7 linked regions of the Homo sapiens genome follow. The protein of the gene in region 6 purifies or fractionates together with the protein of the main gene of each other region. This does not show direct contact. Each region holds a gene or a part of one and is shown on either strand. Other genes may lie near its edges. The genes, in order: ATL2, LMNB2, XRCC1, ARPC1A, RTN3, ARL6IP5 and ARPC2.

Region 1 (3,500 bases), on a different chromosome or scaffold from region 6:
TTTTTCCTAGAATAGTATATCCAGTGAAAATACTTCAAACATGAAGGAGAAATAAAGACTTCCTCAAACAAAAGCTGAGGAATTTTATCAACATCAGACCTGTCCTACAATAAATGTTAAAGAGAGTTCTTCAATCTGAAAGAAAAGGATTTTAATGAGCAATAAGAAATGATTTGAAGGTCCAAAACTCACTGGGAATAGTAAACACACAGAAAAACAGAATATTATTAACAATAATTGTGGTGTGTAAACAACTCATATCCTGAGTAGAAAGACTAAAAGACGAACCTATAAAAAATATTAATTAACAACCACAACTTTTCCAGACATAGACGGTATACTATCAATAGAAACAACGAAAAGTTTAAAAAGTGGGGGGATGAAGTTAAAGTGTAGAATTTTTATTAGTTTTCTCTTTCCTTGTTATTTAGTTTGTTTAGGCAATCAGTGTTATCAGTTTAAAATAAATATATTATAGTTGCAAACCTCATGGTAACCTCAAAAGACATACAACAGATACACAAAAAATAAAAAGAAATTAAAACATACCACCAGAGAAAATCACCTTCACTAAAAGGAAGACAGGCAGGTAGGAAGACCACAAAACCACCAGAAAACAGTAACAAAATGACAGAGGTTAACTCCTTACTTATCAGTAACATTGAGTGTAAATGGGCTAAACTCTCCAATTAAAAGGCACAGAGTGGCTGAATGGGTTTTAAAAAATGGTGATACACACTTCATCTATAAAGACACAGACTGAAAATAAAGGTATGGAAAAAGATACTCCATGCAAATGGAAACCAAAAAAAAAGAGCAGAAGAAGCTACATTTATATCAGCCAAAGAAGGTCATTATATAATGATAAAGGGATCAATTCAGCAAGAGGATATAACAATTGTAAATATATATGCACCCAACACTGGAGCACCCAGATATATAAAGCAAGTATTATTAGAAACTAAAGAAAGAGGACCGGGCGCAGTGGCTCATGCCTGTAATCCCAGCACTTTGGGAGGCCAAGGCAGGTGGACCACTTGAGGGCAGGTGGACCACTTGACGTCAGGAGTTTGAGACCAGCCTGGCCAACATGGTGAAACCCCATCTCTACTAAAAATACAAAAAATTAGCTGGGCATGGTGGTGCGTTACTGTAGTCTCAGCTACTCAGGAGACTGAGGCAGGAGAATCACTTGAACCTGGGAGGTAGAGGTTGCAGTGAGCCGAGACTGCTCCGCTGCACTCCAGCCTGGGCAAAACAGCGACACTTGGTCTCAAAAAAAAAATCAAAAAAATTGAAATTATATCAAGTATCTTCTCTGACCACAATGGAATAAAATCAATAACGAGGAATTTTGGAAACTATACAAACACATGGAAATTATATTAATACAATAGGCTCTTGAATGACCACTAGATCAGTGAAGAAATTAAGAAAGAAATAAACACATTCTTGAAACAAATGAAAACGGAAACACAACATACCAAATATATGGGATACAGCGTTAAGCAGTACTAAGAAACTATATGGTAATAAGTGCCTACATCAAAAAAGAGGAAACACTTCAAATAAACAACCTAACCATACATCTTAAAAAAACAGAAAAGGAAGAGCAAACTAAACCCAAAATTAGAAGAAGTTAGCGAAATTGAAATAAAAACAATACAAAAGATCAATGAAGCAAAAAGTTGATTTTTTAAAAAGATAAACAAAGTCAACAAACCTTTAGCCACACTAAGAAAAAAAGAGATGACCCAAATAAATAAAATCAGAGATGAAAAAGGAGACATTGCAACTGATACCACAGAAATCCAAAGGATCATTAGAGGCTACCATGAACAACTATATGCCAATAAATGGGAAAGCCTAGAAGAAATGTATCAATTCCTAGACATATACAACCTACCAAGATTGATCCATGAATAAATCTAAAACCCGTACAGACCAATAACAAGTAACGAGATCAAAGCCATAATAAAAAGTCTCCCAACAAAGAAAAGCCCGAAAGCTAATGGCTTCATTGCTGAATTTTATCAAACATTTAAAGAACTAATACCAATCCTACTCAACTATTCCAAAAACCAGAGGAGGAGGGAATATTTCCAAACCAATACTACAAGGCCAGTATTACCCTGATACCAAAACCAGACAAAGACTCAGCAAAAAATTACAGGCCAATATCCCTGATGAACACTGTTGCAAAAATCCTCAACAAAATACTAGCAAACTGAATTCAACAACACATTAAAAAGATCATTCATCATCACCTAGGGTCAGGCAGGGATGCAAGGACAGTTCAACATACACCAATCAATCAATCAATCAGTCAGTCAATGAGTGTGATACATCGTTATCACCAGAATGAAGAACAAAAACCATATGACCATTTCAATTGATGCTGAAAAAGCACTGGATAAAATTCAACATCCCTTCATGGTAAAAATCCTCAAAAGGTACAGAAGAAACAGATCTCAACATAATAAAAGCTGTATACAACAGACCCACAGCTAGTATCTTACTGAACTGGGAAAAAATTGAAAGCCTTTCCTTTAAGATCTGAAACAAAACAAGGATACCCACTTTCACCACTGCTATTCTACACAGTACTGGAAGTTGTACTTCAGTACAAACTTTGAGAAAATGACAGTGGCTTCAATAAATGGTGCTGGGAAAACTGAATATCCATATGCAGAGGAATGAAACTAGACCCCATCTCTAGCCATATACAAAAATCAAATCAAAATGGATTAAAGACTTAAACCTAAGACCCAAACTATGAAACTACTAAAAGAACACATTGGTGGCCAGGTATGATGGCTCACACCTGTAATCCCAGCACTTTGGGAGGCAGATGCAGGCAGATCACCTGAGATCAGGAGTTCGAGACCAGCCTGGCCAACATGGTGAAACCCTGTCTCTACTAAAAATACAAAAATCAGCTAGGCATGGTGGCAGCTGCCTGTAATCCCAGCTACTTTTTTGATGTGCAAAACCTTTTAACTTGATAATGTGCTTGCAGGGTATTACTGAAGAAATCTTTTCCCAGAGCAATGTCCTGGAGGGTTTCCCCAGTGTTTTCTTTTCTTTTTTTTTTTGAAATGGAGCCTTGCTCTGTCGCCCAGGCTGAGGCCAGGCGAATTGCTTGAACCTGGGAGGCGGACGTTACAGCAAGCCGAGATCACGCCACTGCAGTCCAGCCTGGGTGACAGAGCAACGCTCCATTTCAAAAAGAAAAAAAGAAGAAAACATTGGGGAAACCTTCCAGGAAATTGGTCTGGTCTGGGAAAAGATTTCTTCAGTAATACCCTACAAGCACAGGCAACCAAAGCAAAAATAAACGAATGGGATCATATCAAGTTAAAAAGCTTTTGCACATCAGAAAAGTGAAGACGCAACCCACAGACTGGGAGAAGACATTTGCAAACTACTAGTCTGATAAGGGATTAGTAACCAGACTATATAAGGAGTTCAAACAACTCTACAGGGAAAAGAAAAAAAAA
Region 2 (3,500 bases), on a different chromosome or scaffold from region 6:
GAAACCCCGTCTCTACTAAAAAAACATACAAAAAATTAGCCAGGCGTGGTGGTGGGCGCCTGTGGTCCCAGCTACTTGGGAGGCTGAGGCAGGAGAATGGCATGAACCCGGGAGGTGGAACTTGCAGTGAGCCGAGATCGCACCACTGCCCTCCAGCCTGGGAGACAGAGCGAGACTCAGTTTCAAAATAAATAAATAAATAAATAAAATGAAAAATAAAAATAAATAAAAAAATAAAAGCAATGCGGTCCCTCCACCATCCACACACAGGAACATGACCCAGCTGTGTAACGGAGCAAGGTTCTGACACCACAGTGTGGATGCCCCTTGAGGATGTCACACTCATGAGACGCCAGACACAAAACGCCACACAGTGTGTAATCCCATTTCCATGAAATGTCCAGGTCAGGCCAGTGCACAGACACAGGCAGCGGGTGTGTGGGCAGCGGGGCTGGAGAAGGGGACGGGGAGTGACCGCTGAGGGGGACAGGCTTCTTTTAGTGGGGATGAACGTTCTAAAATTGGACACATTGGTGGTGGCACAGCTGTGGAGATATGAAAACGCGAAACCTACGGGTGAGCTGGGTGAACCTTATGAGGCGGGAATTAACTGCTCCGGCTCTGGCGCTGAGGAAAAGGAGGACCGGAGGATGGTAGGCGGAACCAGGCCCAGCACCACCCGCTAGAACGCCGTGATGTTCCCACAGCCCTACAGGGCCAAGGGTGTCTATGCAAGGTGGGTACAGGGTCGGCCTGCATCTGGAGGGCCACACCCCCATGTTACAGGCGAGGCTCCTGTGCAGAGGGCTGGGGGCCTGCCAGGACGCACCCCTTGGCAGTGACCGGGCCTCTTCTGAGGTGGGACCCTCAGCCTCAAACCAACGCATGCTGGGCCATCTGGACAAGTCAGAGTCTCAGGCTGCCCCAGCACCGCAGCTCCAAGTCCCGTCAGCCTACAGTGGGGCGGGATAAGGGTTCCCAACCTGATTTTATGTATGGGAAAACTGAGGCACGGGTCAGTAAAAAGCCGCCTCCTGACCACCGCTGGGTCCTAGACATATCAGGTCTGCGGGGACCAATTGTAGGACGGGGACCCACAGAGGCAGCAGTGCAAAGCGAGCTCCTCCCGCGGCACCCCGGCCACCCCCAAGCCCTCCCTCCCATGCAGGCGATCATCTGGGCCGTGCCCTCCACATCTGTGTCCTGGGAACAGACTTCTAGAAAAACCCAAATCAGGAAAAAGCGGCCAGCTCCACGCTGCAAACAGCTGGGCACCAGGTGCAGGCATGGTGGTGTCTGCCTCTCCCTCAAAGCTCCCAAATACCCCTAACCTCAAGGGAGGGGCTGACGGGACACCCTCAGGATGGGGGTCACACACGAGCTCTCCTGTCCCCACAGAGAGAGAGCTGACTGCGGCTCACGAGGCAGAGGGGCCAGGATGAACAAAACAGCAGAGTTTCCAACAAAGACAAGATCAGCGCCGGGACACACAGGAGCCCGTTCAAGGTGAGAAAAAACAGCAACTCTGCAATGGCAGCCACACGCACAGAGGCATGCTGAGCACCCCCAGACCATGTGCACGGCGGTCCTGTAAGACTCTAATGCAAACCTGGCATGGGGGCTCACCCCTGTCATCCCAGCACTTTGGGAGGCTGAGGTGGGCGGATTACGAGGTTAGGAGATCAAGACCATCCTTGTTAACACGGTGAAACCCTGTCTCTACTAAAAATACAAAAAAATTAGCCGGGCATGGTGGCGTGCACCTGTAATACCAGCTACTCAGGAGGCTGAGGCAGGAAAATTGCTTGAACCCAGGAGGCAGGGGTTGCTGTGAGCCAAGATTGGGCCATTGCACTCCAGCCTGGCGACAGCCAGACTCCACTTCAAAAAATAAAAAGAAAAAGAATCTAATACCATATTCTTACTGCACCTTTCTTGTGTTTATTTACTTATTTTGAGACAGAGCCACACCCAGCCTGGAGAGCAATGCCGCAATCACAGCTCACTGCAGCCTCAAACTCTGGGCTCAAGCAATCCTCCTGTCTCAGCTGCCCCAATAGCTGGGACTATAGGCACACATACTACTATGCCTGCCTAATTAGTTTCTAACTTTTTTTTTAAGAGATGGGGTCTTGCTATGTTGCCCAGGCTGGTCTCAAACTCCTGGACTCAAGCAATCTGCCTGCCCCAGCCTCCCAAAGTACTGGGATTATAGGCGGGAGCCACCGCACCCAGCCCTTTCTCGTGTTTAAATGCTCACATACTTACCATTGTGTAACCGGTGCCCACAGCATTCCACAGAGGAGCGGGCGGTGTGGGTCTGTGGCCTAGGAGGCCACGCCCAAGCCTGGGTGTGTGGTGGCTTCCACCATCCGGGAGTGTGGGAGTGCACTCTACCATGCCCACACAAGGGGCACGTCTCCTAACGACACGCTTTCCACAAGGTATCCCTGTCACTAAACGACACCTGACTTGAATTAATAGTTTGTTCATTGTAGATTTTTTGAATTAATTGATTTTTAAAAGATAATCCATTAGGGCCCGGTGCGCTGGTGCATGCCTGAAATCCCAGCACTTTGGGAGGCTGAGGCGGGCGAATTACTTGAGGTCAGCAGTTCGAGACCAGCCTGGCCAACATGGTGAAACCCTGTCTCTATTAAAACACAAATTAGCTGGGTGTGGTGGTAGGCGCCTGTAATCCCAGCTACTCGGGAGGCTGAGACAGGAGAATCACTTGAACCCGGGAGGCAGAGGTTGCAGTGAGCTGAGATCACGCCACTACGCTGCAGCCTGGGTGGTACAGAGAGACCCTGTCTCAAAAAAAATATACATATGTCTGGGCGCCGTGGCTCACGCCTGTCATCCCAGCACTTCGGGAGGCCAAGGCAGTTGGATCACCTGAGGTCAGGAGTTCGAGACCAGCCTGACCAACATGGAGAAACCCTGTCTCTACTAAAAATACAGAATTAGCCGGGCATGGTGGTGTATGCCTGTAATCCCAGCTACCCAGGAGGCTGAGGCAGGAGAATCGCTTGAACCAGGGAGGCGGAGGTTGTGGTGAGCCAAGATCACGCCACTGCACTCCAGCCTGGGCAACAGAGTGAAACTCCGTCTCAAAAAAAAGAAAATAAAATACATATACATATACATATATATATACACATATATATATATATTCCATTAAAACATTACTCATCCCATCGCCCCAGCGTGACGATGAGCAAAACAACACACAAACCCCCATTGAGGAACATCCTACTGCACACCTGCCCAGCCCGCTCAGGACCAACCAGAACCTCTAACCAGGAACGTGGGGGAAACTATCAGCCTGGAGGAGCCTGGGAGACAGTGACGTAGTCACTAAATGTCACGTGAGATAGTGGATGGGGTCTTGGGGCAGGAAAGGACATCGGGGAAACTGAGGAAGTCTGAATACATGATGGATGTTGCTGGGAGCAGTGGCTCACAGCTGCAGTCCTACAACTTTGGGAGGCTGAGGC
Region 3 (3,500 bases), on a different chromosome or scaffold from region 6:
CCTTATCTAAATTCTCCCATGGAGTCTTCCATATCTGGCAATACAGCGGGCTACATGTCCTAAGGAACTTTCCCGGCAGAGAATATTCAGTAAACTGGCACAATATTCAAACACCTTTTGGAAATGCACAGGTGAGTCAGCGGAAAGGCAAGGGGAATTACTAGAGGCTGGAAATGAGAAAACAGAATCCAGAGAGTCAGGCGAGCTGCACTAAGTATTAAGTGATTGTTTCTCAGCTCAAACCTACCCTCTACAACTCATCTCTGTGATCTGGGCCCGCACTTGGCAAACCACCTTTCTGCTTCCCTAGCTGATCGTGACCAGGCTCTGCCAATAGGGGGGGCAAGAGAGAGAGTTTGCAAGGCTGCAGGAGGGAGGAAGGACCAGCTTCTCGTGCATTGCAGATCCTGTGAGCATCACCCCCAGTTAAGCTTCTGCTGCTGCAGTGGTTCCTGCCTGCAGCAGCAGATGAATCCAGTTTGCAGTGTCCCAATACCTCCAGAAACAGCCTCATTCAGCCCCTCTCAGCAGCCGGTGGGGGAGGAAGCCCTCCTCAAACGATCTGAATTTCAGCTCCTGGAGCCCCACCTCCCAGTTTCCAAACATCTACGTTTCAATAATTCCTGCTCCTTTCTTTTGTTCCCCCAACCCTGGGAGTGGTAGCTACTCCCTGCGGTTGCTTCTCCCTCATATCTTAGTCTTCTAGTAACACCTAGTTACTGGTTCTTTCTATCAAATTATCTGTTAAAATAACTGGTGTGGTTTTAATCTCCGGGCAAGGACCCTGACTGACCCGGCAGCACTCATGTTGGTAGTTTGTCATGGTGCTGATCCCAGATAGCAAATAACTTGATTTTATTTATTATTATTATTTTTTTAAGAGACAGGGTCTTTCTCTGTCACCCAGGCTGGAGCACAGTGGTGCGATCATAGCTCACTGCAGCCTCGACCTCTGGGTCTCAAGTGATTCTCCCACCTTGGCCTCTGAGTAGCTGGGTCTAGAGATGCACGACACCACACCTGGCTAATTTTTTATTTTTTGTAGAGGCATGGTCTTGCTATGTTGCCCAGGCTGGTCCTGAACTCCTGGCCTCAAATGATCCTCTCACCTCAGCCTCCCAAAGCTATAGAAGTACAAGTGTAAGCCACCACACCCAGCTAGAACTTGATCTTTAAGGGTTATGCACGTGGTGGTGAAAGAGAACAAGAGAGAAAACCTAGGCTCCAAGCAAGGGAGAGTGGCATCTCAGAGATCCTCACCACACTGCATAGAACTGAGGACTCCCCAAAGGCAACGCCCACACTAGTTACATGAAGGGGAAATAAGCCTGTGGAAAGAGTCCCTGGGAGGCCTGTCTGTCTTGGCCTTAGCTTGGGGGGACACCAAAGAAGAGGTGAAAATTCTTCTCGGGAGAACTCCTCACAAGTCTGTTCTCTCAAGGAATTGAGAGTAGCAATTCATGTTAGCAATCTGCATTGAAAAACCCAAGCTGAGGCCAGGCGCGGTGGCTCACGCCTGTAATCCCAGCACTTTGGGAGGCCAAGGCAGGCGGATCATTTGAGGTTAGGAGTTCAATACCAGCCTGGCCAACATGGTAAAACCCCATCTCTACTAAAAATACAAAATTTAAGCCAGGCATGGTGGCAGACGCCTGTTGTCCCAGCTACTCGGGAGGCTGAGGCACGAGAATTGCTTGAACCCAGGAGGCGGAGGTTGCAGTGAGCTGAGATCGCACCATTGCACTTAAGCCTGGTGGACAAGAGGCCAGGAGTTCAAGACCAGCCTAGCCAACATGGTGAAACACCGTCTTTACTAAAAATACAAAAATTAGCTGGACATGGTGGTAGGCACCTATAATCCCAGCTACTCGAGAGGCTGAGGCACAAGAATCGCTTGAACCCAGGAGTTGGAGGTGATGGTGAGCCGAGATTGTGCCACTGCATTCCAGCCTGGGTGACGGAGCAAGACTCTGCCAAAAAACAAAAAACGAAACAAAAAGACTGGGCACAGTGGCTCACACCTGTAATCCCAGCACTTTGGGAGGCCAAAGCAGGCAAATCACGAGGTCAGGAGATCGAGACCATCCTGGCCAACATAGTGAAACCCCATCTCTACTAAAAATACAAAAAAATTAGCTGGGCATGGTGGCGCGTGCCTGTAGTCCCAGCTACTCGGGAGGCTGAGGCAGGAGAATCACTTGAACCCAGGAGGCGGAGGTTGCAGTGAGCCAAGATTGCGCCACTGCACTCCAGCCTGGCAATAGAGCGAGACTCCGTCTCAAAAAAAAAAAAAAAAAAAAAAAAGATGAATGCAGCCACTTTTGGTTGGGTATATTTTGTTACTGACTTAGTCTCTTTTCTAACTGACATGCTGTGAAATTATAAAATTGGACAATAAAGCCTTTTGCTGAGAAAAACAGAACATAACTATAGCTCTCTTTGTGCACAGCTGATTATGCAAAGGAAACAAGAAAGACAATTATACAGAAGGGAAGTTTTCTTCCTGACCTTGACTATACTTGTTTATAAAAGGCCTGATTTGGAGCTGACAGGGAAGCTGCATTTATCATCTGGTGACTAACATGGGAAAACCCTGTCCTACTAAATACAAAAAAAATAGCCATGCATGGTGGCACAGGCCTGTAATCCGAGCTACTTGGGAGGCTAAGATGGAGAATCGTTTGTACCTGGGAGGCGGAGGTTGCAGTGAACCGAGATTGCACCACTGCACTCCAGCCTGGGCAACAGGAGCAAAATTCCATCTCAAAAAAAAAAAAAAAAAAAAAAAAAAAGGAAGGAGGGAGGGAAGGAGGGGAGGGAGAATGGAAGGAAGGAAGGCTCCTGTGACTTTGGGTTTGTGCCTTTGATGTTTTTGAAGAGTAGAGGTCAGTGATTTTTGTCAGATATCACTTATTGTACAAAGTATCTGATGTTTCCTTGTGATTAATTTAGGTTGCACACTTTGGCCAGAATACCACAGAAGTGATGTGTAATATACAGTTTATTTTGTATATTGACTTCTCATCTTGTGACCTTCACTTACTAAACCTTGTAGTTTGTCTAGATCTCTTGGGATTTTCTGCATAGACAATCATGCCATCTGTGAAAAAAGATAGTTTTCTTTTTTCTTTTTCTCACCTTGTCACACTGACTAGTGCAAAGTTGGGCATGGTGGTGCAAGCCTGTAGTCCCAGCTACTTGAGGGGCTGTGGAAGGAGGATCACTTGAACCCGGGAGGACAAGGCTGCAGTGAGCTGAGATCGTGCCACTGCACTCCAGCCTGGGTGACAAAGTGAGACCTCGTTTCAAAAAAAAAAGAGTAGGCCAGGTACACACAGCAGCTCACATGTGTAATCCTAGCACTTTGGGAGGCCGCAGCAGGTGGATCACCTGACCTCAGGAGTTCAAGACCAGCCTGGGCAACACAGTGAAACCCTATTTCTACAAAAAATATTTAAAAATTAGCCGGGCATGATGGCTCCCACTAGCTACTTGGGGGG
Region 4 (3,500 bases), on a different chromosome or scaffold from region 6:
GCAATCTTACAAATTTCTACAGGAAACTTTTCTTCCAAGTTAAGCTTCAACCTCAGTAATTGTTTACATTTTTATTCGTTGAGAATTAGTGTCAAGTATAGGTAAATTGGACTTTATTATGGTACAAGGTATTGTCTTTGAACAAGCTGTATGTTTAGGGCAGTTTCTCAGCTGTAGAACAATTATTTCATATTTCATAGGAGTACTTTAAAACAACTTCTCAGAAGTTTATAATTCAGCCATATGAACTAATTATTTTGCTTGCCATCTTTTCCTTAATTAAAAAAATTACATTATAAAGGCCAGGCACGGTAGCTCACGCCTGCAATCCCAGCACTTTGCGAGGCCAAGGCAGGCGGATCACGAAGTCAAGAGTTCGAAACCATCCTGGCCAACATGGAGAAACCCCATCTCTACTAAAAATACAAAATATTAGCCAGGTGTGGTGGTGCATGCCTATAATCCCAGCTACTTGGGAGTCTGAGGCAGGAGAATCGCTTGAACCAGGGAGGTAGAGGTTGCAATGAGCCGAGACCATGCCACTGCACTCCAGCCTGGGCAACAGAGCAAGACTCTGTCTCAAAAAATATGTATACATTATGAAACAATTCGAAATACTGTCTTTTTCTCCTTTTTTAGAGACTTTGTGGGGGATTTTGGTTTTTTATTTTATTTATTTATTTATTTTTTGAGACAGGGTTTCTCTCTGTCACCCAGTCTGGAGTACAGTGGTACAAACACGGCTCACTGCAGTCTCCAACTCCTGGGATCCAGCAGTCTTGCCACTTCAGCCTCCCAAGTAGTTGGGACTACAGGTTTGCACCACCACACCTGGCTAATTTTTTGATTACTTGTGGAGACAGGTTCTCACTTTTCTTGCCCAGGCTGATCTCAAATTCCTGTACTCAAGCAATCCTTCTGCTTTGGTCTTCCAAAGTGCTGGGAGTATAGTTGCAAGCCTCTGCACCTGGCTGTCTTTTTCAGAATGAACTTCTTCAGACAGGATACTAAGAAAGTGATTCTGTAGCCAGGCGTGGTGGCTCATGCCTGTAATCCTAGCACTTTGGGAGGCTAAGGCAGGCAGATCACCTGAGACCAGGAGTTTGAGACCAGCCTGGCCAACATGGTGAAAGCTAATCTCCTCTAAAATTACAAAAATTAGCCGGGCGTGGTGGCGTGAGCCTATAATCCCAGCTATCGGGAGGCTGAGGCACAAGAATTGCTTGAACACAGGAGGCAGAGGTTGCAGTGAGCTGACATTGCGCCACTGCACTCCAGCCTGGATGACAGAGTAAGACTCTGTCTCAAAAAAATAAAAAATAAATAAATAAAAGAAAGTGATTCTTGCTTGACCCCGGGAGGTGGAGGTTGCGGTGAGCTGAGATCACGCCATTGCACTCCAGCCTGGACAACAAGAGCGAAACTCCATCTCAAAAAAAAAAAAAAAAGAAAGAAAGTGATTCTATAGAAAGGTAATTTAGCATTGAAGGAAAGGCATTGGCTCAATATTTAGTCTCCCAACTGTTGAGCAACCAGACGTGATTGGTTTTTAAACAGCAGTTTGGGGGCAGAAATGAATTAGTTAAGCCAAAATACTGACTGGTCCTAGACATAAATCATCTTTTTTGGATGGTGCTAGCGAATTAGAGGCTAATCCCCAACATGAGGTTCTTCTAATTTCTTGGTTGTGATTTTTCAGTGAAAGAAATTAAAAAGAATTTGCAGATTCGTGGAGACTTGGGAAGGATATTAAGCTGTCTTACAACCCCAAATTCACCAAAAATTCAGCAAATCACTGAATATTCATAATAAAAATTGAAGTATTTTCAAACTTCAGTTTTTATCTCAGAGGTTAACGTCCTATGTAATCCGAAATCTCACGAAAACATAACTGAGTTAATCAATATCTATGCTTACTAATGAGGACTGCTGAAAACCAGCTGTTGTGCTGAGAACATCAGGGCCAGGAGTGGAGAAGGCCTGTTCATGGTTCTTTTCCTTTCTGTCCTTTAGCAATGCACCTTGTCAGCTGGGCGTAGTGGCTCATGCCTGTAATCCCAGCACTTTGGGAGGCTGAGGCCGGTAGATCACTTGAGCCCCAGAGTTTGAGACCAGCCTGGGCAACATGGAGAAATCTCATCTCTACAAAAAATACAAAAATTAGCCAGTCTCAGATCATAACCTGGTATCAAAAAACCTTGTCTCTGGCAGAAGGCCTGGTGACCGACAGAAGAACGTTGAATGCTCTGTTACTTTTCTATAGAATCTTTTTTTATAGAAACCTATCTGAAAAAGTTTATTCTGAAAAAAATAATATTCTGAATTGTTTTATAATTTTTTTTTAAATTAAGGAAAAGTGTGGCCTACTTAGGTATTTTCACCTGACATACATTTGTAGGTCATTTGGGGATGCTGGTTGAGTGGATAAACTGAAACAGTTTTCCCCTCTCATAGGTGGGTGAGCAAGCACATTAAAAAGCCGATTCGCTCCACAGTCCTCAGCTTGGATTGGCATCCCAACAACGTTTTGCTGGCAGCAGGATCATGTGACTTCAAATGCAGGTGGGAACCAGTGAGAACTGATAAACTTGAGCCGTGCATTCTTCATCCTTCAACAAATAATTTTAGGTTCTCTTTCTTTGTTTTTTGTTTTGTTGTGGTTGTTGTTGTTTTGAGACAGGGTCTCACTCTCACCCAGGCTGGAGTGCAGTGGCACCATCATAGCTCACTGCAGCCTCCAATTCCTGGGCTCAAGCGATCCTCCAGCCTCAGCCTCCAGAGTAGTTGGGACTACAGGTATATGCCACCACACCTGGCTAATTTTTTTAAAATTGTCTTTATTCTTTGTAGAGACGGGGTCTTGCTACATTGCCCAGGTTGGTCTTGAACTCCTGGCCTCAAGTGATCCTCCCTCCTTGGCCTCCTGAAGTGCTGGGATTACAGGCATGAGCCAGTGTGCCTGGCCTGTAAGTTTCCTTTTCTTTGCAAGGTACTGCGCTAGGCACTGTGAGGGACTCAAAAATGAGGCCTGGTGCTGTGGCTCACACCTGTAATCCCAGCACTTTGGGAGGCTGAGGTGGGCGGATCACCTGAGGTTGGAAGTTCAAGACCAACTTGGCCAACATGGTGAAACCCCGTGTCTACTAAAAATACAAAAGAGGCCGGGCGCAGTAGCTCACGCCCGTAATCCCAGCACTTTGGGAGGCTGAGGTGGGCGGATCACAAGGTCAGGAGATCGAGACCATCCTGGCTAACACAGTGAAACCCCGTCTCTACTAAAAAAATACAAAAAATTAGCCGGGCGTGGTGGCGGGTGCCTGTAGTCCCAGCTACTCGGGAGGCTGAGGCAGGAGAATGGTGTGAACTCGGGAGGCGGAGCTTGCAGTGAGCCGAGATCACACCACTGCACTCCAGCCTGGGCGACAGAGCGAGACTCTGTCTCAAAATAAATAAATAAATAAAAGTTAGCCTGGTGTGGTCACAAATGCCTGTAATCCCAG
Region 5 (3,500 bases), on a different chromosome or scaffold from region 6:
GGATCGCTTGAGCCCAGGAGTTCAATACCAGCCTAGGCAACATAGTGAGACCTCGTCTCTATCAAAATAAAAATAATTAGGTCGGACGCAGTAGCTCACACCTGTAATCCCAGCATTTTAGGAGGCCAAGGAGGGTGGATCTCCTGAGGTCAGGAGTTCAAGACCAGCCTGACCAACATGGTGAAACCCTGCCTCTACTAAAAATACAAAAATTAGCTGGGCATGGTGGCACATGCCTATAATCCCAGCTACTTGGGAGGCTGAAGCAGGAGAATCGCTTGAATCCAGGAGGCGGATGGTGCAGTGAGCAGAGATCGTGCCACTGCACTCCACCCTGGGTGACAGAGTGAGACTCCATCTCAAAAAAAAAAAAAAAAAAAAAAAAGAATTAGCAATATTAAATCTCAAGAATAAGGAAATCCACAGAGTCAGAAAGCAGATTAATAGTTGTCAGAGAATTGAGGGGAGGGAAGAACGGTGAATTACTGCTAACAGATATGGGGTTTCTCTTTGGGGTAATAAAAATGTTCTGGAATTAGATAGTGGAGATAGCTGTACAACCTTGTGCATACACTAAAACCCACCTTAAAATGGTGAATTTTATGGAGACAGAGGATGAAAAGCCAGTGAGAGTGAGTATGTGGTGTCACAGAAGACAAATTAAAAAAGCATTTCAAGGAGAGAATAATCAATTATGTCAAAAGCTGTTGTGAAAGCATGTTAAGAGGAGGATGAAGTGACCACTGAATTTAACAATGTGGAAAATATCTGGTGAACTTGACTAGAAAGTTTCTGTAGAGCAGTGAAATAAAAAGGCACCTGGCTTAAGAACCGTGGAGCCAGAAATTAAGACTTTTAAATTAAACTGATCACTGAATTCAAAAGGGTAACTGAGCCACTTTTACTACATGTTGCTTCAAATCTTAAAGCGTGGGCATTAAACTCTCTGTGCCTGAGTCCCCATCTGTAAGAAGGGGGTTATATCGCTACCTGTCTACCTCACAGATAAACATAATACAAGTCTTTCCTCTATAGAATATGGCCTCTAGAGGAATGATCTATATTTTATTTACCTTTCTGTCTTCCACAGCACCTGGCAAAGAGCCTTCATGTATGCTCAGTTGTTGAATTAAGGTAACATATGGGCACAACTTAAATCATAAAGCAGTACACAAATGTAAGATATCGTGAAAATCAAGTACTTCTATCTCATACGTAAAATAAAGACAATGCCCTCCACTGAAATATGTTCAAATAACAGGACACAATTTTCATAACAAAAGGTTTTCCAGAATGTCCTTCCATATATCTTGAAGGGCGAGCTACCAATGAGGAACAGGTCAAAAAGCTCACCGTTCCCTCTGGTTAAGTTATGATGATATGGTTACAGGAGATAATAAATCAGTTGATTGGAGAAAACAGGTAAGAATAGTTCTTTGAGACTGGGTGTGGTGGCTCACATCTGTAATCCCAGCACTGTGGGAGGCCGAGGCGGGGGCAGTTCACTTGAGGTCAGGAGTTCGGGACCAGCCTGACCAACATGGTGAAACCCCATCTCTACTAAAAATACAAAAATTAGCTGGGCATGGTGGCACAAGCCTGCAATCCCACCTACTCAGGGGGCTGAGGCAGGAGAATCGCTTGAACCCGGGGGGCGGAGGTTGCAGTGAGCAGAGATCCCACCACTGCACTCCAGCCTGAGCAACAGAGGGGGATTCTGTCTCAAAAAAATAGTTCTTTGAAATAAAAAAAAAAAAATCAAAAATCACAAGAGTGGGCCACTTGCTGATAAGCTCACTGTCTTCTCTGGTTAGGTTACAATGATATGGTTATAGGAGATAATAAATCAGTTGATTGGAGAAAACAGGTAAGAATAGTTATTTGAAATAAAAAAAAAAAATCACAAGAGCAGGCCACTTGCTGATAATCTTCTCCCATACGTAAAATGGAAATGCAAACCCCGTTACAGTATTTAAAGAGATTCTCTCTGAGGTTGCAATATCACAGAGTAACATGTCTTACAAAACTCACAGATGCCCAGAAGACTTCAATGATGCAATCACAAGCAATACTGATTACAGCTAAACTTATTTAACACACACACTTCTTTCAAAACATCAACACCATACCCTATGATCCAAAATAACTCTACAACTAGTAGCTGTCATAAATGAACAGAATAGAAGGTTAAGTCAGTTTTCTGGGCAACTTCTGAATAAGTCAATTATAAGAACAAAATATCGACCTGCTAATTTTTGTCTAAAAAGTTTTACTATGAGTGCTTACTTCAGCAGCACATATACCAAAATTAGAACAATACAAAGAGTATTAGCTAAATTAAGAGAAAAAGTTATACTACAAAATTGATGAATTTTTCACAAGTTTGTATACTTTAGGAGGCTAAATTCATCATCAACAATAAAGTTAACACAAACTATAAGCTAAGTGCACACAACAAATATGCACATTTATATTAGAAAACCTACTTACTTAATGAAGCCTTTGTAATTCTGTTCAGAATTACAAAAATGGTAAATTCTAGGATTATGGGTAAAGAGAAGTGTCTTTCTGCAAAATATACTCTTGACTCAAACAAAATTGGAAAGCTCAACTTTCCCTTTTCCCTTCAACCAGACGTCACCAATTCCTTCATGACCAAACTTCATTTTACAAGGCTTGAAACATGCACAGGACTAGACAGGTAACTCCTATATCAGGATAAATATATTATTTCCTCACAGGATAATTTGATAAAAGCAGTAATATTGGTTTTTATTTTCAGCCCATCTTTAAAACACCAAGAATAAAAACACTGAGGTTCTTACCAGCCACTTAATGAACAACCCCTTAGAAATGACAATTTAGGGTAAGGGTGCACCTACTAAATGTATGTAGATTGGTTGTTTAATTTGATCAGAGTGGTTCCATTACTTGTGAATTTGACAATAAACAAAAACAGCATTAAAAAAAAACTTCTTGGCCGGGCGTGGTGGCTCACGCCTGTAATCCCAGCACTTTGGGAAGCCAAGGCTGGCGGATCATGAGGTCAGGAGATCAAGACCATCCTGGCTAACATGGTGAAACCCTGTCTCTACTAAAAACACAAAAAATTAGCCAGGCGTGGTGGTGGGCACCTGTAGTCCCAGCTACTGGGAAGCTGAGGCAGGAGAATGGCATGAACCTGGGAGATGGAGGTTGCAGTGAGCTGAGATCGCACCACTGCACTCCCGCCTGGGCGACAGAGCGAGACTCCGTCTCAAAAAAAAAAAAAAAAAAGCAAAACACACTTCTTATTCTTGGAGAATAAAAACAATCCAAGTCAGCAGGCATTTGCAGGCCATATTGACATGACCATTCTTGCTGTCTCCTGTATGCTTGCCTCTGTGCTGAAAGGGGTTTCCTAATGTATCATAACAACATTTATTAGTCAGAATCTGCATAAGTATTTAAGCATATTGATTCATGCCAAGCCTTCTGGGAAACATCTTGACTCCTCCCTC
Region 6 (3,500 bases):
AGTAGCTATGTCTATAGTTTTACCACAAGTTACTGAAAGGGGAAAAAAAAATCTCACAAAATTTTAGAGCTAGGAAGGATCTTGCTAACCCACCTCATTTTACACGTAAGCAAGCTAAAGAATATACAAGTTAATAAATTTGTCCAAGGCCACCAATTGCAAAGTTGGCAATAAAAGTTTGCCATAACAGAAATCCTCGGATCAACTCAAGGCCACATTTGGTGACTCCTGTCAGGCTGCAAGGCCAAAAAGAACCACCAAAGAGGCAGCAAAATATTTCCTGAGGAGTACAGGCAGCTTTGCACTGAGTTCCAATTTTCTAGCCGAAAAAGCTATTTTTGAAGTGTGGTTTCTGAGGAAGGCTGACTCACCGAAAAAGTGGGGAACAATATACTCACGGTGGACTTCTCTAAATTGGCGATGTTTCTCTGTGGTCCTTAATCAGCCAGAGGGATCACTGCAAATATGAACCCACCCAACCATTTTCTTTTCATTGTTCTTAAACTAAAAACAGAATTCTTTAAACATTCTACAAGGCTTCGCAGGGTCTGGCCCCTGCCTGCCTCTGCAGCCAGGGCCACTGTATATAGGTGTGGAGTTGGTGCCTGGCTGAGGGGGTAAGTGGGGCCTGGAATCCAGGTCACACACTCCACAAGCCAAGGCCAAAATTTGGCTTTGGCTGTAACTGCTAGGAGAGGAAGAAGTGCCTTAGTAATTAGCATGAGGGAACTCTCAGGGCTAGCAGCTGGCCTACCTGCCAGGTTTGTCACACCATCTCCTGATTGCACCCCCATCCACTCAGGGTTTCTATCTACCCCAGAACTCACCTTGCCTTTTGCCATCTCAGGGTGAGGTGAATCAGGCAGAGAGGATACTTTGCACACAGGCCTCACTCCACCCTCCTTCAAGTCTCAGCTCAGCCAGCCTTTCCTCAGTCTCTCTGACCAGAGCACAGCTCCATATGCCTTTTCTTTTCTTTCCTCAAGAAAGGTTCTTCCTCTGTCACTCAAGCTGGAGTATGATGGCATGGTCATAGCTCACTGCAGCCTCTTTCTCCCACACTCAAGTGACCTTCCTCAGCCTTCTGAGTAGCTGAAACTACAGACTACAGGTGAGTGCCAGCTTGCCTGGCTAATTTTTAATTTTTTTCTTTTCTTTTCTTTTTTTTTTTTTTTTGAGACAGAATCTCCCTCTGTCGGCAGGCTGAAGTGCAGTGACACAATCTTGGCTCGCTGCAACCTCTGACTCCCTGGTTCAAACAATTCTCCTGCCTCAGCCTCTCCAGTAGCTGGGATTAAAGCATGCGCCACCACACCCAGCTAATTTTTACATTTTTAGTAGAGACGATGTTTCACCATGTTGGCCAGGCTGGTCTCGAACTCCTGACCTCAAGTGATCTGCCTGCCTCAGCCTCCCAAAGTGGAGAGCTATTTTTGACTATAGGCATAAATGTGGGCTTTGGACACAAATTCGTCTTGAGTAAATGAGAACAGTGTCTCCTTGGCCTAAGGATCATGGAATAAAGGAGACTGTACAGTAGGTAAAACTGAACAGGAGCCTGTCTCTTTTGTTACAGAAAGGTCATAGTGAGATTTTCCTAACCAACTGAATTAGGAAGGCCTAGAGGATTTATTGTATTCTTGCCATTCCCTAAATATTTACTGTATCCTGTGTAATTTGGCACAAATTAAACACTCGCATCCAAACCAACCATTGTCTTTTTAACAGTTGGCATGTTAAAAGTGTTCATACTAAGACATGCCTTAGGAACCTCCAGATTTTCTTTTGTTTTTAATAAACAACAGGTTGGACTCGGATTAGAAACCATAAATCTGACGCTTCCCACAGTGACGGAGCTTCAAATAATAGTTGTGTACAAAGCTCTGATTAGACTTCATAAAACCCTTTTTAACTTTTCATTATGGAAAACTAACATATACATAGGTAGAGAGAATAATGTATAATGAATCTTCATGTATGCTCATCACTGCTTTCACAATTAGCAACCCATGGTTACTCTTAACAACCAATACTTTTTGGGGAACAGAAGTGGAAAGATATTTGTTTACAAACTGTTCTTCTTGAATGATTTTAGAAAATTAAAAAAAAAAAAAAAAGGCTGGGTACAGTGGCTCACACCTGTAATCCCAGCACTTTGGGAGGCTGAGGTGGGGGGATAACTTGAGGCTAGGAGTTCGACACCAGCCTGGCCAACATGGTGAAACCCCGTCTCTACTTAAAAATACAAAAATTAGCCAGGCATAATTGTGTGTGCCTGTAATCACTTAAAAATACAAAAATTAGCCAGGCATAGTTGTGCGTGCCTGTAATCCCAGCTACTTGGAGGCTAAGGCAGGAGAATCGCTTGAACCTGGGAGGCAGAGGTTGTAGTGAGCCAAGATCCTGCCATGGCATCCAGCTTGGGCGATGCAGAGAGACTCTGTCTTAACAAAACAAAACAAACAAAAGCTACTGAGAACTGTCACATGGCAAATTCTTACAGAGCTGTGGAGAGAAGACAGGGGCTGGACAAATGCTAACGAGCTTGGTAACACAGACTTCCTTCTCACAAGTTTCCTGTCTATTTACCCCTCACTAACCCCCAATTTCTGCATTCTTTTTCCTCTGAGACAAGGAGAAGCTGCACCAATGAGATATGAAGCAGATTAGAAGAAGCAGGGCTTTCTGCCTTCCAGGTGTCTCCTTTAGCAAATTGCATAACGAGAAGGAAGGCCAGGAAATCCTATCATATATCAATGATGAATGCTTGCAAACCTGAAGTTGTTAGCCTGAAGGTTTTGCCTAAAATTACAGGGCTTGAAGGCATTCTCAGAAACAGGAAGCCACGCTCATTTCAAGAGACAGAGGATGGTATTAAGGGTGAAGGCATTCTCAGAAACAGGAAGCCACGCTCATTTCAAGAGACAGAGGATGGTATTAAGGGTTAAGTTTTCTGAAGCTGAGTGATAAGGATAGAATTCATTTGTCCAAAAAATAAAAAATACAAAATTTCCAATATTGATGCTTAATTAGATATTAAGTGGGTAGGTCAAGAATGGGTCTTGACCTTTTTGAACTGGATTTCCTGTACAGAGCTCTCTGTCCCTAAGCTGATGGAGAGCTTCTCCTTTCTAAGACAGGGGGCCAGGAATCCAAAATACACTCATTTATTTGCACACTTACCTAGAATCATTGTAAATCCTTACCTAGGGAAAGGAAACAGAAACTACCAACCAAAGGCCAAAAGTAGCAGGCAACATTGAAAAAAAAAAAAAAAAAAAAGCTGGACGGAGAGGGGAGAGAAGTTCAGATAAACAAAGTTACATAAATAGTATCAAAGGTGTGCCAGCCATACCTCTCGCCTGTCATCCCAGCACTTTCGGAGACCAAGGCAGGAGGATTGCTTGAGCCCAGGAGTTCGAAACCAGCCTGGGCAACATGGCAAAAACCCTTCTCTACAAAAAAAAATACAACAATTAGCCAGGCTGGTGGCACATGCC
Region 7 (3,500 bases), on a different chromosome or scaffold from region 6:
CCCAAGTAGCTAGGATTACAGGCGCCCGCCACCATGCCTGGCTAATATTTGTGATTTTAGTAGAGACAGGGTTTTGCCATGTTGGCCAGACTGCTCTCAAAACTCCTGACCTCAGGTGATCTGCCCACCTTGGCCTCCCAAAATGCTGGGATTACAGGTGTGAGCCACCACACCCAGCAGTTTTTTTAAGGTCACAAAATGACAAGACTAGGATTTGGACCCAGTTCTGTTCGACTCAAAATAGAGTGCCCTACACTTATGTGTCATGCTGCATTTGGCAAGTCACGTCACTTCTTTGAATCTCCTTTTCCCTCTGCAAAACAGTAACCTTATCTAGCCTGCAGACTTCAAAGGTGGTTATGGAGATCAAATGAAGTAAAATGTTTTAAAAATTGTACAATATATACCAATAAAAGCTATTGGGGAGGTATATGTATGAACAGGTAGTTGGTTTTTCTACCCTGCCACCTCATAAAGAGTTTGCAGTGGCACGTAGAAGGGTTTATCTTATTATCACAAAGCTACCCATTTGCTGGCCATACTGATACTTGGCACATTAAACTATCAGAGAAATATATGTGGCTCCTTTACAACTGTGTCTAGAAGGGTACATTTCCAATCAGAGTTCCCAGGTTCTGACTTTCTCCCATTACATATTTGTAATTAGTCATCTTTGATACTGATTCAAATTTTTGATTAACATTAATTATATATATTTACAAGAATCTTATAAAAATTAAGATTTTATTTCACCTCATTTTGCCCTGTGAGATAGATGGAAATAGACTATATTCTACCCAGGTTAAAAGTACAGATAATGAGACAAAATGTCAATAGAACCTGAAAAAAGATTTTTTTAGTTGCCTCTAGTCTCTGTTTACTTGGTATAGATAGTATGCTGCTTTTTTTTTTTTTTTTTTTTTTAAATGTAACTGCTGGGTTGTTTTTTGTTTCTTGTTTTTTCTTTCCCTCCAGGATACAATGTCTCTTTGCTATATGACCTTGAAAATCTTCCGGCATCCAAGGATTCCATTGTGCATCAAGCTGGCATGTTGAAGCGAAATTGTTTTGCCTCTGTCTTTGAAAAATACTTCCAATTCCAAGAAGAGGGCAAGGAAGGAGAGAACAGGGCAGTTATCCATTATAGGGATGATGAGACCATGTGAGTATAGAATTTGGTCCTGAAGCCTGGATATGGCTGCTACACCACCATGGCACTTACTGAAAGAAATATGGCTTGGTCAAACTTTCAGCTGTATTGCGTGAAAATGTTTTTCTCATAAAATGTCTTAAGCCAGGAAGTAGATGATAGGGCAGAAATCAGCCACTCCTCCTACTCTCCAGATACTGAGAGCTGACAGATGGTGGAAAGAGAATCCAGTGCTTTCCTTTAAGGCACCACTGTTCTGAGTCATGTTTAAGAGTATAGCCTGGATAATCAGCAGGCAGGGTGACCATAGGTCCATGTTATATTTACAAGTCAATAAAATCTACTTCTGATAATTTCCATCTGCTGCCTCTCTTAGGGCATTCATTTTGTGCACTGACTTTGTTGACCATAAATATCATCTCATTTGGCACACCTTTATATTATGATTTAAGAGATTTATGACTTTAGCCTTCTGATGTACTTGTAGATCAAGTTATTGACAAAACCCCATTCTGATTCTGTACTTATCCTCATGGATTTTGTTCCTCTCAGGTATGTTGAGTCTAAAAAGGACAGAGTCACAGTAGTCTTCAGCACAGTGTTTAAGGATGACGACGATGTGGTCATTGGAAAGGTGTTCATGCAGGTATGGAGCAGACATCTTGGGGGAAACCCATGCATGGCGACTTATACCTTTGCACCCAAACATACCATGAGCGTAGGAAAGAGATCTAGCAACTCTACTGATGTTAGAATTTTTTTTTTTTTTTTCGAGACGGAGTTTCTCTCTTGTTGCCCAGGCTGGAGTGCAATGGAGTGATCTCGGCTCACTGCAACCTCCGCCTCCCAGGTTCAAGCAATTCTCCTGCCTCAACCTCCTGAGTAGCTGGGATTGTAGGCATGCACCACCACACCCAGCTAATTTTGTATTTTTAGTAGAGACGGGGTTTCTCCATGTTGGTCAGGCTGGTCTCAAACTGCCGACCTCAGGTGATGCCCATCTCGGCCTCCCAAAGTGCTGGTATTACAGGCATGAGCCACCATGCCCAGCCTTGACGTTAGAATTTGTTGAAGATTTAATAGACAACTCCCACAAAACTCAGTGAATATTTTTTGTTGCTGCTGCTGTTGTTTTGAGGTGGAGTCTTGCTCTGTCGCCAGGCTGGAGTGTAGTGGCACGAACTCAGCTCACTGCAACCTCCGCTTCCTGGGTTCAAGCAATTTTCCTGCCTCAGCCTCCCAAGTAGCTGGGATTACAGGCACGCGCCACCACGCCCAGCTAATTTTTGTACTTTTAGTAGAGATGGGGTTTCACCGTGTTGGCCAGGATGGTCTCAATCTCCTGACCTCATGATCCGCCCGCCTCAGCCTCCCAAAGTGCTGGGATTGCAGGCATGAGCCACCGCGCCCAGCCTGATATTTTTTTTCTCAGTGGTTTAGTTTTGCAGGACAGAACTAAAGGGTAAGTTGAGAATTAAACATACTAACTATGAATGAATGTTATGCATCCTTCCTACTGTGGGGTCTTTGACCTAAAACTTTGTCAGGTTTCCTAACCCTAACCTCTTGTGTTTCCTCAGATTTCTAGTAAGGTGGCTGCTCTTGGTTTGGTCCTAAGGTCTTTTCAGAATGGACTGTATAGCCAATTATTTGGTAGTAGATAACGCATGAACAGGTAGAGTTGTTGAACTGACAGACTGAGCCTGAGTTTGGATGGGTCACCATAGAGTACTTCCCTCACAAGAAGCTCATCTTAAGAAGAGTCATGAGAGGCCAGGCGCGGTGGCTGACGCCTGTAATCCCAGCACTGTGGGAGGCCGAGGTGGGCGGATCACGAGGTCAAGAGGTCAAGACCATCCTGGCCAACATGGTGAAACCCCGTCTCTACTAAAAAAATACAAAAAATTAGCCGGGTGTGGTGGCAGGCACCTGTAATCCCAGCCACTTGGGAGGCTGAGGCAGGAGAATCTCTTGAACCTGGGAGGCAGAGGTTGCAGTGAGCCAAGATTGCACCATTGCACTCCAGCCTGGGCAAAAAGAGCGAAACTCCGACTCAAAAAAAAAGAGAGTCCTGAGAGTTAGCAGGGCATTTTGTAATTGGATTTTTGGTGTAGTTGCATTCAGGTCATTGTGTACCAGTCTGCTGGCCAGTTAGTTGCTGCCTCTAGGATGGACATGAGAGTTCATTGGTCAAGTGACATTCAGGCTGGTTTCTTCTGAGATGGCTCAGCATTCAAAATCTAGTACAATGGTAAAATTTTTTGAAAACGTTACTACCTTCATTCTGTTCCTTGGCAGGGTGGTAAAGATTTTTAAATTCTGAAGCAGAATCTCTTTTGCCAAATAGAGT

Evidence for each region.
Region 1: the proteins of ARL6IP5 (region 6) and ATL2 purify together in Homo sapiens (affinity purification with mass spectrometry; one large-scale study listed by BioGRID and IntAct). This does not show direct contact.
Region 2: the proteins of ARL6IP5 (region 6) and LMNB2 purify together in Homo sapiens (affinity purification with mass spectrometry; one large-scale study listed by BioGRID and IntAct). This does not show direct contact.
Region 3: the proteins of ARL6IP5 (region 6) and XRCC1 purify together in Homo sapiens (affinity purification with western blotting; one study listed by BioGRID). This does not show direct contact.
Region 4: the proteins of ARL6IP5 (region 6) and ARPC1A purify together in Homo sapiens (affinity purification with mass spectrometry; one large-scale study listed by BioGRID and IntAct). This does not show direct contact.
Region 5: the proteins of ARL6IP5 (region 6) and RTN3 purify together in Homo sapiens (affinity purification with mass spectrometry; one large-scale study listed by BioGRID and IntAct). This does not show direct contact.
Region 7: the proteins of ARL6IP5 (region 6) and ARPC2 purify together in Homo sapiens (affinity purification with mass spectrometry; one large-scale study listed by BioGRID and IntAct). This does not show direct contact.

Annotation. Positions count from the first base shown.
Region 1 is NC_000002.12:38,304,274-38,307,773, forward strand, and holds part of ATL2 (atlastin-2), read right to left. Parts: intron 1-3,500. UniProt on the Homo sapiens protein: Atlastin-2 (ATL2) is a membrane-anchored GTPase that mediates the GTP-dependent fusion of endoplasmic reticulum (ER) membranes, maintaining the continuous ER network. It facilitates the formation of three-way junctions where ER tubules intersect.
Region 2 is NC_000019.10:2,446,960-2,450,459, forward strand, and holds part of LMNB2 (lamin-B2), read right to left. Parts: intron 1-3,500. UniProt on the Homo sapiens protein: Lamins are intermediate filament proteins that assemble into a filamentous meshwork, and which constitute the major components of the nuclear lamina, a fibrous layer on the nucleoplasmic side of the inner nuclear membrane.
Region 3 is NC_000019.10:43,555,028-43,558,527, forward strand, and holds part of XRCC1 (DNA repair protein XRCC1), read right to left. Parts: intron 1-3,500. UniProt on the Homo sapiens protein: Scaffold protein involved in DNA single-strand break repair by mediating the assembly of DNA break repair protein complexes. Negatively regulates ADP-ribosyltransferase activity of PARP1 during base-excision repair in order to prevent excessive PARP1 activity.
Region 4 is NC_000007.14:99,346,398-99,349,897, forward strand, and holds part of ARPC1A (actin-related protein 2/3 complex subunit 1A), read left to right. Parts: intron 1-2,454; coding exon 2,455-2,562; intron 2,563-3,500. UniProt on the Homo sapiens protein: Probably functions as a component of the Arp2/3 complex which is involved in regulation of actin polymerization and together with an activating nucleation-promoting factor (NPF) mediates the formation of branched actin networks.
Region 5 is NC_000011.10:63,688,000-63,691,499, reverse strand, and holds part of RTN3 (reticulon-3), read right to left. Parts: intron 1-3,500. UniProt on the Homo sapiens protein: May be involved in membrane trafficking in the early secretory pathway. Inhibits BACE1 activity and amyloid precursor protein processing. May induce caspase-8 cascade and apoptosis.
Region 6 is NC_000003.12:69,091,437-69,094,936, reverse strand, and holds part of ARL6IP5 (PRA1 family protein 3), read right to left. Parts: intron 1-3,500. UniProt on the Homo sapiens protein: Regulates intracellular concentrations of taurine and glutamate. Negatively modulates SLC1A1/EAAC1 glutamate transport activity by decreasing its affinity for glutamate in a PKC activity-dependent manner.
Region 7 is NC_000002.12:218,237,689-218,241,188, forward strand, and holds part of ARPC2 (actin-related protein 2/3 complex subunit 2), read left to right. Parts: intron 1-975; coding exon 976-1,162; intron 1,163-1,702; coding exon 1,703-1,796; intron 1,797-3,500. UniProt on the Homo sapiens protein: Actin-binding component of the Arp2/3 complex, a multiprotein complex that mediates actin polymerization upon stimulation by nucleation-promoting factor (NPF).